Linked DNA regions of Homo sapiens. The protein of the gene in region 1 interacts with the protein of each later gene in a pairwise test. Each region holds a gene or a part of one and is shown on either strand. Other genes may lie near its edges.

The links. The genes of interacting proteins can lie anywhere in the genome.
Region 2: the proteins of RUNDC3B (region 1) and CSNK1G1 interact in a two-hybrid assay, tested with the Homo sapiens proteins (one large-scale study listed by BioGRID and IntAct).

The regions. Positions count from the first base shown.
Region 1 is NC_000007.14:87,736,332-87,739,989, reverse strand, and holds part of RUNDC3B (RUN domain-containing protein 3B), read right to left. Parts: intron 200-3,658; coding exon 110-199; intron 1-109.
Region 2 is NC_000015.10:64,199,062-64,202,719, forward strand, and holds part of CSNK1G1 (casein kinase I isoform gamma-1), read right to left. Parts: intron 1-3,658.

The sequences.
Region 1 (3,658 bases):
AACAATATCCAACTGTGTGCTTTACTTAGACAACTGAAAGAAAAAAATCATAAGTAGAAACTATTAAGATATAGAATAATTTAAAAACTGAATGCATTTGGTTAAGTACCTGAAATCAATAGCATTGAGTCCTAGAAGCATGCCAGCAAGCATATTTGCTTCTTCACCCAAGACAATTGCTCCATCTTCATAAAATCTCCTAAAAAATGAAATGGGTGAATATATAAAATATTAAAAATAAATGGAAGTTTGATCGAGAGAAATCATTTAGAGCCCAAACTATTGTAGGAAGAGCTAAATTTTATTTAATTTGTATTTTTAAAAAAAACATATTTCCATCACTGAAGTTTTGAAGATATTTAGACCAAAATAAAGAGACAAAACAACAACAACAAATCCCTGAAGAAACTAAAACCTGCCAATATAACAAAAAGAATTCTCTGTTTCCAGCTCTCCTAAAAAGAAACCCCCAAGTGAGTCTTTCAATGGGTCTAGAGTGCCAGCATTTTTCCTTAATAGTGAAGCAATATAAATGTAAAGTGAAAGGTGGCAAATTCAGAGTCATCTGTATTTACCTATTTTCAAAATGAAGTAGACTTGAGTTCTAATAAATAAGATAAAATTAAGTTCTGTTTTTCTATAATTGCAAAGATTACTGAGTAAGTTAAGAATTTGGGAGGCATACTTGTTAGTAATTTATGGTAACCTTAATAGTGCAATCCTAATAAAGCAGATGGGCTACCAAGGTGGCTGCATATGAAAAAGAAAGTATTCAATATCTCCTTGACAAAAATGGGAATGTGAATGTATCTTTGTTAATTCCTGTAAAGCTTTACATTTTAGTTATCATTAGTTTTTAAAATATTTTTGAAAGAAAAATCATTATGTGGCCCTAAGGTATTTTTCCAAAAATGAATGTAAAATCATTTAATCTACTTCTTTTAAAACGTAGTACTATGTAAAATCTAGTTTATATCAGTAACCAGGGATGATCACACTGCTATAAGTATTTATATTACATATAAGAGAGTGAACACCACTCTATACCACCCCATTAACTAAAATGAAACATTTTAGTAAATCAAAGGTCTTGCTCTTTTCAGTATTTCTGAGTTTATAAATTCTGCAAAAAATTTCAATATGCTCATAATCCTACCATCAATTTTGAATTGTTGTTCACAGCTTACTAAGTATTTTTACAAACATATTACTTGATACTTGCAAAAAAACCCATAAATTAAAGGCAGAAGGAATCATTAGTTTCAAATTTACCATCAGGAAAAGTTTAAAACAATTTGCACAAGCTCATGTTAGATGAATTGCTTAAGAAGGCTACCCAATTCTTCTTTAAGTCCTATATCTTCTATTAAATCTACGTTTCGTAAAACAAAAATATTTTAAAAGAACTTAATGTATGGTATGGTTCATAAGGAATATTAAATGAATAAAAAGTACAAAATGGAAAAAATAGTCAACTATTTACTCTCTGACAGATGTAAGGCTGCAAACAAATACAGTGGGGAGACTGGCTTGGAATAAATGTTTTTTATTTTCTTGGACCTACTGAAATTGCTTTTACTGATTTATATAAAAGGAGAAAAATGAAAACTTCTGGCCTAACAAAATTAGTAAAATAAATGGAAGGATTTTTTTACATATTCTACTGAGGTGTCCTGCAGAAAGGTAAAATATTTAGACAAATATGTATGTTTGAGACTTTGTCCCTGGTCCAATAACTAAGTTGGCTATTGGCAGAATATATTATTAACCCCTGGAAGAACTATGCTTCTAATGGTTTCAGACCACTAAATTCTATGAGACATATGAATTTGGAAAAGAATCTTGTTTTTTTGATACTGCCAATAACCCATTATTCCTAGTACTTCTTATATAAGAAAAGGTCTACTTCTTTTATTCCTCATCTTGAACCTACCATTGTTTAAAAAATACATTCTAAAAATCAGCTCAAAACTATTCTTGCTTGCTTTCTAATGGCACCTTTGTACTAGGGAGTGTTGAAGAACACCACGGCAAAAAATTAACTGGTTTGAGAAATTTTTTAAAAACTAAAGGTCTTTTATGTGTGTGCATATAATAATGTTTTAATGAGTTTTTCACTTTAGTTTTACTCATTAGTAAATAAGTAAATTTTCTAAGCGAATGATTTAAGATAAGTAAAATGGTTGCTATATGTAAAATCAATAATTCCACTGAAAAAAATCATATCTTAAGTGTAAGATATGATTTAATATAACAGCAAAAGAGGAAAGGAAAAATGGAAGAGGAAGGGCTAGTTAAGAGGATTGCCCATTATATGCTGAACTTTTAAATTATTAGTTCTGGTTAAGAAAAACATTATTTTTCAGAAGATGTACTTCTGAGCTTAAGATAATATATTTTAAAGTAATTCAGTATTTAGAAAACTGAAACGATCTGAGAAGATAATATTTTTATCATTTAATCAAAGACTTCATTCATGTGTATGAAAGAGGTAGAAGCTGTCTCGAAAAATTAATTTCTTCTCTTATGCAAACTAATATATCAATAATTAGACTAAAAATCTGATTCCTGTGGTCAATACTTTCAAATATTCCAAAAGATGGTAAAATTTCAACCTTTTCATTTTACCTCATTGAAAAATTGGAACATTAAACTTTGCTTATATAACCAAGATCATAAAATAAATGAGCCAGGAGTAAAGCCTGAGATGACTAATCCAATAATAGTAAGGTATATACTTAAAATTCCCTTTTTTCAGTTAAAAATATTTTTTGTTCTAAAGAAAATTTTTATGCCAGGCCTGGTGGCTCATGCCTGTAATCCCAGCACTTCTGGAGCCTTAACAGGCAGATCATTTGAGCCCAGGAGTTAGAGATCAGCCTGGGCAACATGGTGAAACCCACCTATACAAAAAATACAAAAAAATTAGCCAGACGTGGTGGCACATGCCTGCAGTCCCAGCTACTTGGGAGGCTGAGGTGAGAGGATGGCTTGAGTCAGGAAGACAGAGGTTGAAGTGAGCTGAGATGGTCCCACTGCACTCCAGCCTGGGTGACAGAGCAAAACCCTTTCTCAAAAAAAAAAAAAAAAAAAAAAAAAATATATATATATATATATATATATATATATATATAGGTATATATATACACACATACATATATATAACATATATAAATATAAATATATATAATACATATATGTATATGTATAAATGAGAAGAATCTAACCAAAACATTGTACTGCTTAAGTTCAACATATTATAAATGTTGAAAGTACCAAAGTAAAAAATACATATGAAACTTCCATTTAAAGATTTTTATATTAGAGACTATACCTTTAAATATAGTTTTATATTACAGAAGTGAGGAAAAATTACAAGCAACTATTTGATACTACTGTGATCTGGGAAAAAAACTTCCTGATCTTATTAGGTATACCACCGTTTCCAAGTATTTATATGTTGATTAGAAAAACATTAGTGACTAGAAAAGTATTTAAAATAATGCCCTTATAAGAATATGCTTTTCTTTTACCACATATAATTTAACTCTAATTGAAATATATTCCTATAATGCCACCTTGGTGTCCATTCTGTAAGAATATTTTAAGGAATTTTAAGTAGTTCAATAACAAATATCCTCTGGATGGGATCCAAGGT
Region 2 (3,658 bases), on another chromosome or scaffold:
TGAAACTGTCTCTACAGAAAATACGAAAAAAAAAAAAAAATTAGCTGGGCGTGGTGGCGTGTGCCTGTAGTCCCAGCTACTCAGGAGGCTAAGGTGGAAGGATCACTTTAGCCCAGGAAGTTGAGGCTGCAGTGAGCTGTGATTGTGCCACTGTGCTCCAGCCTGGGCAACAGAGTGAAATCTTTTCTCAAAAAAAAAAAAAAAAAAAAAAGAAAAAGAAAAGAAAAAGAGAAAAAAATATATATCAAAGAGAGATATTCAAGATTCAACTTTTCAAAAATAAGCATAGTAGTTAAATACAGATGAGATTTTCCTAAATAATTATATACTGTGGTCAGAGACTTTTCATTTAAAAGTACATTGAAATTCACTACTCAGTTTTTACCCTGACAACCGAAGTTTTCAATCATCTCTTTTCCTCATACTTTAAAAATCCATGCAAAACCACAGCATTGGTTATAAATTCACTGAAGCAGGAAAGTAAAGGAAACACATATTTTAAGATAGTCTAGGACGGGCGCGGTGGCTCATGCCTGTAATCCCAGCATTTTGGGAGGCCGAGGCGGGCGGATTGCCTGAGCTCAGGAGTTCGCAACCAGCCTGGGAGACAGTGAAACCCTGTCTCTACTAAAATACAAAACATTATGCAGGTGTGGTGGCGTGCGCCTGCAGTCCCAGCTACTCGGGAGGCTGAGGCAGGAGAGTTGCTCGAACCCGGGAGGTGGAGGTTGCAGTGACGCGAGATCGCGCCACTGCACACCACCCTGGGCGACAGAGCAAGACTCCATCTCAAAATAAATAAATAAATAAAATTTTAAAAAAAATTCTATCACATTCTAAGAGAATGGAGGTAAAAAAGAATTTTAAAAAATAAAAAATATTCTAAAAAATAGGCACAAGGTGCCGGGCATGGTGGTTCATGCCTGTAATTGCAGCACTTTGTGAGGCTGAGGCAGGTGGATCACCTGAGGTTAGGAGTTCCAGACTAGCCTGGCCAACATGGTGAAACCCCATCTCCACTAAACATACAAAAATTAGCCCGGTGTGGTGGCAGGCACCTGTAATCCCAGCTTCTCAGGAAGCTGAGGCAGAAGAATCGCTTGAACTCAGGAGGCGGAGGTTGCAGTGAGCCAAGATCATGCTCCAGCCTTGGTGATAAGAGCTAAACTCTGTCTCAAAAAAAAAAAGAGACACAAGGATATATGTTGACTGTGATATGACACTACTTATCTATTTTTTCTTTACATACATTTTCTACTTAAATGCATTTTTGTTTTTTGAGATGGAGTTTCTCTCTTGTTGCCCAGGCTGGAGTGCAGTGGTGCCCAGGCTGGGGTGTAATGGTACCATCTCGTCTCACTGCAACCTCCACCTCCCAGGTTCAAGTGACTCTCCTGCCTCAGCCTCCTGAGTAGCCGGGATTTGAGGCATGTGCCACCACACCCAGCTAATTTTTATATTTTTAGTAGAGACAGGGTTTCACCATGTTGGCCAGGCTGGTCTCGAACTCCTGACCTCAGGTGATCGACCCGCCTCGGCCTCCCAAAGTGCTGGGATTACAGGCGTGAGCCACTGCGCCTGGCCGCATTATAGAGTAATAAAACTTCATTTAAAATATTTTAGAATATATTACTACACTTCCAACCCTATTTCTGTTAATAATTTTGATCTCCTTCCATTGATTCTGCTTATTTCCCCATCCCGTCCAGCTCACTTTACTATAACCCAGTTTATTCAATAAAGGATGTGAAGTAGATTTATAACCATGCCTTTATAGGTGGATAGGCAGATCATTTCTATATCTCTGCTACCAATGACAATGCAACAGTTTTATGCACATAACCTATACTTTGAGTGGTTTTATTGATTGATTTCAAGAAGTAAGGTATTTCATCAGAGAAGAAAATAACTTGATCAAATTGCTTTCTAGCCAGGCACAGTGGCTCACGCCTGTAATCCCAGTACTTTGGGAGGCCGAGGCAGGTGGATGACCTGAAGTCAGGAGTTCGAGACCAGCCTGGCCAACATGGCGAAACCTCATCTCTAATAAAAATACAAAAATTAGCCAGGTATGGTGGTATGTGCCTGTAATCCCAGCTACTTGGGAGGCTGAGACAGGAGAATTGCTTGAATCTGGGAGACAGAGGTTGAGGTAATCTGAGATTGCACCACTGCACTCTAGCCTGGGTGACAGAGCAAGACACTGTCTCAAAAAAAAAAAAAAAAAAAGAAAGAAAAAGAAAAGAAAAAAGAAATTGCTTTCTAGAGAATTTGTACAATTCGTAAAATCAACAGCAATATGTCAGTTTAACTGTGCCCTCACCTGCACTAGCTATTAGCTTTTAAAAAGGGAGGGATGGGAGAGAACTGCAGAAGTCAACAGTCTTTTGTTGTCAAACCAGAAGTCAGTCAAATTATAAATCTTAAACAACGACTTTAAAGGATGTGACTATGGACCCAATTAGTGCCCAGAGTTTGCTTAACCCTTTCTTTTTTGCCCACCTATTTTCTCGTTTATATGTACTCTCTAGTAAATGGCTTTCCTCCTTTTACATACTTTTTTCTTACCCACCAAACCACATATTTTGCCAAGAGTATATACTTACTGGTGAGAAAATATATTTGTGGGTGTACTCCATTGGACATGTGTGTGTGTGTGTGTGTGTGTGTGTGTGTGTGTGTGTGTGTGTTTATATACTATTCTTAACCTATATACTTGCACATGTGCATCTATGAAATAAATGTTTTTGTATTTTCTTGTAAAAATGTTAATACAAGAAAGTGAAATCATAAGGAGAGGAAATAAGCTAATTTGATATGTGATAATTATTTTAAAAATATGTAATCTGTTTATTATGCTTTGCTTATTTACCTACTGTGGTCTCTGTTTTTCTCTTAGCAATATATTTAATATAAAGATAAAAATCCTATGTCATATTTACTTCCCAAATACATAAGCCCTTTTTAAAAATGTCAAACTTGTTGATTTTTTGGTGTGTGTTTGCCTTATCTGTCTTTAGGCTGAGAGATGTCCCTCACTGAGACCACTAGTTTTCCAAACAACGAACAATGAAGGACAGATGACATCGCCTAAGCTGAGTCTTCACTGCAGGTCCATCTCAAATCTTGACCAGCTCTATAATTTGCCCGGGTAGAAGAACAAGGGGTGGTGTGGAGGTTCCATTTCATGCCCAAGTCAGTTGGAAGTCCAAAGTACCTACCATTCTTAACCAGCAAGGAAAAACCAGAACTGGCAAGAGCTCTAGACCAGACTACAGATGAGACCCAAAGTGGGCTACCTGGTACATCCTGTCTGTGCGACAGGTCTTTTTTTTTTTAAACTGCTCCTTGGCGAGTAGGGCTACTCCACAGGCACTGTGCCCAGAGTAGCCTCCAACAGGTCTTTTGGTCCTATGGTAGATGCCTCTGATCCTAACTTATAGCTAGTTCCCCCCAACAGCCAACAGACTCTGACAGGCCCACACACTTTTTTTTTTTTTTTTTTAAGACAGGGTCTCACTCTATCACTCAGGCTGGAGTGCAAATGCGGAAGCAATCTTGGCTCTCTGCTGCCTTGACTTCCCGGGCTCAGGTGATTCTCCCACCTCAGCCTCCAAAGTAGCTGGGACTATAGGCACGTGCCACCATGCCCAACTAA